Regions from separate parts of the Homo sapiens genome. Here regions 2 and 3 are each linked to region 1. Evidence: fine-mapped QTL for protein levels in blood plasma. A gene starts in region 1. Each other region holds a variant in brackets. All regions are shown on one strand. Distances are from middle to middle.

Region 1 (2,765 bases):
GGAGCTTTGCACAAGCAGAGCCCAGAAGCTGTTCGTTCATTTCACGCGACCAGAAAAAATTCCTGATGGTGCTATGACCCCGGTGCCCGGTTGGCACTTCCTGGTTTTCTGTTTCTGCTATTCTGTTACCTGCTTGGTTAGCTTTGCAGGCTCCTCAGAGAACACAGAAACAGCTGAAACCAGGGTCCGAGCTCAGGAAACCTGGACTACAGCGCAGCAGGGTAAACCTGACAAATAAACGCGACGGGGAACTCCGTCCCAAGCTGCTGATCTGTGAGTAGAAAGAAAATGCAGCTTAGAAAACTTGATCGCTAATGAAAGAATCGGCCACCCTAGCTTTCTCAGACCTGGGAATCTGGGCCTGGGGGGTGGTTCCAGCAAAGAGGTATCACATTCCCACATTCTGCATCATGCACCTGGAATTGTTCCTCAGCATCCCTAGGAGTCACAACTTTTTTCCCCCAACTTTAACTGGTCAAATCCACTGCGCGAAGGGCAAGCCCAAGGGACCTACCACTCAATTTTCAGCGCTCCAGCTGGGGATGCAGCCTTCCCAACCCGAAACCAATCCTCGCCCCAGAAGGGGAAAAATAATCTCCCCAGAGCAAGTCCGATGAGAGAAGCATCTTTTATTCTCGACCCGTCAGGTGCATTTCCCTGCAAACAAACTTCGGGGCTGAGGAGCCATGAAGCCAGGGCGTAAAGTTTGCCCTGGCAGGTGGCTCATCCCTGTGGCCCGGCCGGCGCCAGGAGTCGGGCATCCCGGACTTACCTGGTCTCTGCAGCTCGCCAGACGCCCGCCCCGACGGCCCACTCGCCGCCGCCGCCGCCGCCGCCGCCGCCGCCACCGCCGCCGCCGCAGTTAGTCCGGGCCCGGGGGGCCGCCGTGCGCGCCCGCGTAAGCCGCCGCCGCCGCAGGCGCAGCACCCTCGTCCGCACGGTTCCCGGCCCAGTCCACGGCGCCAGCCCGCCCGCCGCTGCCACCGCCGCCGCCGCCAAGCGCCAGGCTGCTGTGGCTGCTGCCGGCGCCTAGCGAGCACTGCCCGTGCCTCCGCCACTCCGGCTCCGGCTCCGGCTCCGACGCGGACGCTGGAGGGAGGGGAGACCGGGCGGACTGGAGGGAGGGAGGGGCGGGGAGCGCGGCGGAGCAGCCAACTGGGTCCCGAGCCTCGCGTCTGCGGCGCCCCCAGCGCCTCTGCGCCGGCCGGACCCCGCGCGGCCCTGCGCTCGGCCGCGTGCACCCACGTGTGTCCGGCCTCCGCAGGGCCCTGGGCGGCGGCGCGGGCTGGGCGGCGGTCACCGTGTCACCTCCGGGTGGCCTCGTGCCACGCAGTTAGGGCCCTCGGAACACGGGGTTAAGGCAGGAATTCCACTTCTAGAAAAGCCTCCTGCAGCTGCGCTCCCACAAGTGCGCAAAGATTGCCAATTTTAATATTAAAGCGGATAATTATTAAGGGCTCACTAGGTAGCAGGTCGTGGACTGCGCTAAATCAATTAGTTCATGCAGTCCCCAGAGCAACCTGGATCTATTATTATTCCCGGATTTAGTGATGAGGAAATTGGTTTGCTTAAAGTTTCAATGAGTCAGTTGTGAGAATAATCGCAACTATATTCTGTCAAGGACCCTGTGAAGTAGATCTTACCACCTTTATTTGCCCAAGTATACACACAGTGGTGGGTTGGAGAACCCGGACTTGAATAAGCCTGTTGCAGTCCTGAGCCTTTGCGCTGAACCGCTGGTGACTTACTTCCAGTCAAACCCGTGCAAACACTGCAACTTTAGTTGTACGAAAAACAGTTGGGAACAACCTACCTGTCCTTCATTAGGAGAGTGGCTGATAAAATACAGTGGAGACATACAGCGGCAGAGAGAAAGGTGCATCTACTAGTATTGGCATAAATGACCTCCAAGAGGTATCCTTAGAGGCTGGGCGGAGGTGGGTCACTCCTGTAATCCCAGCACTTTGAGAAGCCAAGACAGGTGGATCTCTTGAGCCCAGGAGTTTGAGACCAGCCTGGGCAACATAGGGAGACTTTGTCTCTGCAAAAAACAAACAAACAAAAAGTTTAAATTAGGTGGGCGTCATGGCACGCACCTGTTGTCCCAACTACTTGAGAGGTTGAGGTGGGAGGAGCACTTGAGGGATCACTCGAGCTCAGGAGGTGGAAGCTGCAGTGAGCCATGATTGTGCCACAGCACTCCAGACCAAAAGACTGAGGGAGACCCTGTCTCTAAATAAATAAAAAAATAAATAAACGGTATTGTTAGGAGAACTTGGGACATGTACTGTTGATCGGCACAGGAAAGTTGGTACCTGTACCGTTTTTGTGCTTACAAGCACTTACACACACACACACACACACACACACACACACACACGCACGCACCCTTTTGTGTGTATGTATCCATATTTATGCATTCACAATTTCTGAAAGGATGTCTAAGGATACTGTTAACAATTGTTAGTCCTAGTGAGTGAGACTGAAATTGGAGCAGAGGAGACTTTATACTTTTCATTTTATAATTCTCTGACATTGTTTTTAAAATGTATCACGTTGTCCCTTCATATTAAATAATCTAGTCACATTTAATTAGACTTGACAGTTTATGGCCCTGTTTCCTCTCCTTGATCCTCTCCCTGTGATTCCTGCAGATGGAATGAAGCAACACCTCATCAAGAGAAGCAACCTGGGCAAACCAGGCCTGGTTTAACTGCACTTTCTCACGTTTGATCATTTTCTCAAGAGATACGTGCGTGGTCCTC
Region 2 (2,765 bases), 57 kb before region 1:
TTTATTTTTTATTTCTATGGATTTGTTTATTCTGGGCATTTCATATAAATGGAATCATAAAATATGTGATCTTTTGTAATGCCTTCTCTCACTTAGCATAGTATTTTCAAGGTACATTCATGAAATGTTAGTAAATTTTGTTTTGTAGCTGAATAATATTCCACTGTATGGATATACCATACTTTGCTTATTCATTCATAAGTTGATGGACTTTAGAATTTTTCCTCTTTGGCTATTGTGAATAATGCTGCAATGAACATTTGTGTACAAGTTTTTGCATGGATGTATGTTTTCATTTCTCTTGGGTAGATATCTAGGAGTGCAAATGCTACTTCATATGGGACCTCTATATTTAACATTTTCAGGAACTGCCAGACTGTTTTCCAATGTAACTCCACCATCTTACTATCCCATCTGCAGTGTAGGAAAGTTCCAATTTCTCCTCATCCTTGTCAACATTTGTTATATTTGTCCTTTTTAAAGTTTAGTTGTCTTAATGGGTGTGAAATATATTTCACTTTGGCTTCAATTTGCATTTCCCTAATGGCTAATGAGGTCAACCATGTTTTCATGTGCTTATTGGCCATTTGTATATCTTCCTTGGAGAAACATCAATTCAAATCCTTTGTCCAGTTTTCAACAGGTTTGTCTTTTTATTGTTGCATCGTGAGAGTTTTTTTGTATTCTAATATAAGTCCCTTACCAGATACATAATTTATAAATATTTCATCCCATTATGTGGATTGTCTTTTTACTTCCTAACTGGTGTCCTCTGCAGCATAAAAGTTCCTAATTTTGATGAAAATCTGATTTTTCTCTTTTTTCTTTTGTCACTTGGGGTTTTAATGTCATATCTAAGAAACCCATGCCTAAATCAAGGTCCTGAAGATTTATATTTACATTTTCTTTTAAGAGTTTTCTAGTTTTAGCTGTTGGAGTTCTACCTATAATCCATTTTGAAATAATTTGGTAAATAGTGTGAGGTAGTGGTCCAACATCTTTGGCAGATGGATATCCAGTTTTCCCATCACTGTGATGGCATTTTGAAAATATGATTGAAACATCCACTTGTAGAGGCCTTCTTGCATGGATGAGGCATCATCCTCCAGGACATCGTACACACCCTGAGTCAATGACTAGTATATAGTGCTGTGTCTTCAACAGGTAGGACATACAGGTTTAGGAACCAAGGGATAGAAGCAGAAGTAGCCTCAGCAATCCATATGGGAAATTTCTTTTTTCTATTTGCTGAAACTCTAAGGGCTTAAGAATTCTTGTTCCTAGAAAGGTAACATTTCCGCCAGGAACACAGCCAGACACGATTAAGTTTTATGCCATAATTTCCACCCTGTCACTTCAGGCTTCTCATGCCAGAACAGCAACAGATGAAAAAAAAAAAAAAAGAAGGAAATGCCAGTCAGAGAGAGCTTGGAATGAATATTAAAAGACAGAAATAGTAACTGTCCATTTCCACCTTGAGGCCAGCTGCAGAGATAGAGTATTTTGTCCTATTAGCTGCTCCCTGGTAA[A/G]TTTTTCCAGGTAGAGAAACCAACAAGAACACTGAAGAAGCTGTTTCCAAACTCTATTAAACAAAACAAATGGATGCATGGAACACAAGGGGTGGACTGTAATAGTTCCCCTTCAGAATGAAATATTCTTTACCCCAGCCTCTAGAAATACAGGTGGCTGATGGCTCTCAGCTTAGTCTCTCCAGGAACTGCCCTCGGCCAGAGTTGCCCCAAATTGTATCTCCCTCTTTAGGGATAATCTTCATGCAATTACTGGTTTTTGCATGATATATGAAAGCCCAGTCCCCTGCCTTAAGATGAGACAACTCTGAAGGGTCATTGCAGTCCAGAACCCCCCATAGGATGGGCTAAGCCTTTGATACTACTGCATCATAGTTCACCTTCCTCCCTCTTCTTAATCCTACTTCCTTTATTTTCACACAGGAGTTGATCCTGAGGACACTCTCAAACAAACTTCGTATATGCAGATCTCTGTCTCAGAGTCCATTTCCCAAAGAATGCAATCTAAGAAACTTATTAGGAGTAAATTTTTGCAACACTCCTCACAACTGTTAGTCTTATCTACATATCCCTAAGCTATATATTTAAAATGATAAACTGATGTATGCAGAGCCTTCTTGCTGAATACTTTTAAAGACAGACATATATAATTTTAAGAATCAAATGGGAAACAGAACAGCATAGAGATGGTCTGCATAGTCTTTGGTGTATTAAACCTGAATTTGAGTCCTTGATCCACTATTGACTATCTCTTTGCCCTTCAGTAAATTACTTGACATTTTATATCCTAATTTGTTCATCTGTAACATGGAATTAATAATAGTAACTGCAGGCCAGGTGCAGTGGTTCACACCTGTAATCCCAGCACTTTGGGAGGCCGAGGCAGGCAAATCACATGAGGCCAGGAGTTTGAGACTAACCTTTCCAACGTGGTAAAACCCTATCTCTACTAAAAATACAAAAAAATTAGACAGGTGTGATGGCATACACATGTAATCCCAGCTGTTCTGGAGGCTGAGACATGAGAATCATTGAAACTGGGAGGTGGAGGTTGCAGTGAGCTGAGATTGTGTCACTGCACTCCAGCCTGGGTGACAGAGTGAGACCCTGTCTCAATAATAATAATAATAATAATAATAGTAACTGCAGTCAAAGTTCATTTTACTAACTAAATAACCTAAGGCATAGAAAAGAACTAAGCATAGAGCTCAATAAAGATTAGCTATTATTAGTATC
Region 3 (2,765 bases), 100 kb before region 1:
ATTGCCAAAAATGTTGGCAAACAAAAACATATTTTATTTTGTTTTCAGAAGCATTGTTTCTTAGAGCTATACAGTATGGAACAAAATCCCTCTTCATTATATATTCTTAGTTAATAAACACATGCACATTCTAAAATGTCAACCTGTGGAGGGAAAATAAACATGGGATGCTAGGCCCAGTATTACACACTTTGCATTTGCTAAATCACCTAATTCTAAGTGACTATTAAGCACTCTGAATAAAAAAGTGGTGCTCCTTTCCTTTCTTTTTTTTTTTTTTTTTTGACATGGGGTCTCGCTCTGTTGCCCAGGCTGGAGTGCAGTGATGCAACCTCCACATCCCGAGTTCAAGCAATTCTCCTGCCTCAGCCTCCTGAGTATCTGGGATTACGGGCACACGCCATCATGCCCAACTAATTTTTGTATTTTTAGTAGAGACGGGGTTTCGCCATGTTGGCCAGGCTGGTCTCAAACTCCTGACCTCGTGATCCACCCACCTTGGCTTCCCAAAGTGCTGGGTTACAGGCATGAGCCACTGTGCCCGGCTTCCTTTTAATTCCTATTGCTTTCCTTAATAATGGCACAGATTATAAATAAGTAACCCACAGGGCTGGAGAGGATGAGTTAAACCGGAATCTCTCTATACTTTTTTGGTACCACCGTTTTGGAAGAAGCATTTGGCAGTATGTATGAGAAGCCACCAAATTGTGTAAGGAAGTCTGAGGAAACTCTGCTCTCAATTCTTTCATTCATCCTCCCTCATTATCTCCCTTGTAGTAATCGTTCCTCATTCTGAATTCCTAGAACAATGTTTGTGTATTTTACTCATCACAACATCATTATCCTATAATATATTACATGTACTTGTTTTTCACTCTTATCACCCTCATCCCCGGGCTTTATACTTTCAGAAGATAGTGACCATATTTAACACACACTTCTTCTAACCTCTTAGCATACCTATTTTATATACATATATATACATATATATAAGTTTTCATATATATATATATGAAAACTTAGTAAATTAGCAATTGTCTGGGAATCTCCCTGGGTCTGTAGGTGTGTTTACTTAAGCATCATTGCAGATGGTTTTAATTTACAAAATGTTACAGCTGATCACAGAAAGACTTCAGACTTTCCTGAGACCACCCTAATCAGATTCACTTAACTCCAACTGTAATTTATGCATCCAACTATAACACAATATATTATATAAAAATATGAACATATAACGGAAGCGAATTCAGTGAATGTGTCTATGACTCTCATGAAACATCTTCACTGTGTCCTTACAGAGGCAGTTATTTCTGTTAGGCAGTTTGCAGATTCTTGATCATCTACACCCCGTGCACACCCTTCTGAGTACCATCAGTACAGGTACAAGACAGGACTAGCTTCA[C/T]GAAAGTACATACAAAAATAGCACTTTCAACAGCAATAGCACCCTAACAGTAATCTTTTGCAAACCTCAGAGTGCTGAACTAAAGTCCCTTTTCTGCATTTTAATGACTTGTTTGAAAGTAACAGCTGCCTAAGACATTAAAACAAAACAAAACAAAAATGCTGAGTTCTGCTTGGTGTTTCACTTACTCAAATCTCTAAGAATGTTTACTGTGGTTAAAGTTACCTTCAGGAAGGGTCAGCATTTGCAAAGGCCTTACTATTCCTACGGAATGTATCTTTTGGCAAAATATCCCCAAATCTATGAGAAATCATTTATGCAAGCTATGAATTTAGTTAACAAGTAATCAACAAGCAATTCTTACTTTAATCTAAATCTTCCAAAGTTAGGATTCAAATCAGTCACCTGCTGGCTGCCTGGACACATTCCACATCTCGGTCCCTTAATCTCAGTTTGAGCTTTGGGTCTGCTTTTCAGATAGAACCTGGGCTAGTTTGTTTTTTTCAAGTTTTTGCAAATCACAAATTCTACAATCATATGATACGTATATGACCTATCATAGATACTGGGAATTTAGGTTTGCAGAGCTGCACGATGGTGGCTATTGGGCCAAATCTATCTTGAACACTTCTTAAATTTGGATCAAAGAATTTCAGGAGGGGAGAAAACACTTCCTTTAAATTGAATGGCTTCATTTAAAAAAAAATCCAGAGATTTAGGCCTAAAGTCAAATTTCACCTTCTTACAAACAAAAAATCAAAGGTCTAGCAATCTTCAATTCAGCAGTTCCATATTGACAGAGCACAATTTCCATATTCATAGACTACAGCCCTACAGGGAGTAAGACATCCATGGATGTCAGCAAGAAATTCACATATAATTACTTGCAAAATAAGTTGATTTATCAAATAACATATCTTGGATTGATTTATGTCATTCTTCCTCCTGGAATATTTTTGCCCTTTATCCTTCAAGGCATAAAGTCTTGAAGGTACATCTAAGTATAATACCACTTTATCAGAAATTCAATTCAACACATCTCTACAAGAAGTAAGATAAATAAATAAATAAATTAGCCTGGCGTGGTGGTGTGCCTGTAGTCCCAGCTACTTGGGAGGGCTGAAGCCAGGGGATTGCTGGGCCCAGGTGTTCAAGGTTATAGTGAACTATGATCTTACCACTACACTTCAGCTTGGGTGATGAAGTGAGACCCCTGTCTCTAAAAACAAACAAAGGAACATTTCATAACGTGAAAATTATATAAAATTTGAATTTTAATGTCCATAAATAAAATGTTATTGGAACACAGCCACACTGACTTGTTTATATATTGTCTATAGCTGTTTTACACATTACAAGGGCA

Direction of the effects. Positions count from the first base shown, and alleles are read on the strand shown. Strength reflects both the effect of a copy and how common the allele is.
With allele G in place of A in region 2, the plasma level of the protein whose gene starts at base 1,041 in region 1 is lower (strong association).
For the plasma level of the protein whose gene starts at base 1,041 in region 1, allele C in region 3 goes with a higher level than allele T (moderate association).

The links. A credible set is the group of variants that fine-mapping cannot tell apart. PIP is the posterior inclusion probability: the model's chance that the variant is causal. Protein levels are from antibody-based Olink assays in UK Biobank. Linkage for the fine-mapping came from a reference panel and not from the study's own genotypes, which makes the PIPs less certain.
Region 2: its variant is the best candidate, but not a certain one, in a credible set for the plasma level of the CNTN3 protein (UK Biobank, PIP 0.54).
Region 3: its variant is the best candidate, but not a certain one, in a credible set for the plasma level of the CNTN3 protein (UK Biobank, PIP 0.71).

The regions. Positions count from the first base shown.
Region 1 is chr3:74,613,619-74,616,383 of GRCh38, forward strand. It overlaps CNTN3 (contactin 3), which reads right to left and starts at 1,041. Exons shown (of 23, transcript NM_020872.3): 1 at 773-1,041. LOC105377166 (a long non-coding RNA gene) reads left to right here and starts at 185. Exons shown (of 3, transcript XR_007096257.1): 1 at 185-273; 2 at 2,655-2,765.
Region 2 is chr3:74,556,340-74,559,104 of GRCh38, forward strand. All of the region lies in intron 1 of CNTN3 (contactin 3), which reads right to left. Among named protein-coding and RNA genes, the nearest start is that of CNTN3, 57 kb to the right of the region's middle. The variant A/G (reference allele first, on the strand shown) is at 1,530.
Region 3 is chr3:74,509,048-74,511,812 of GRCh38, forward strand. The region is part of intron 2 of CNTN3 (contactin 3); the gene reads right to left. Among named protein-coding and RNA genes, the nearest start is that of CNTN3, 100 kb to the right of the region's middle. The variant C/T (reference allele first, on the strand shown) is at 1,403.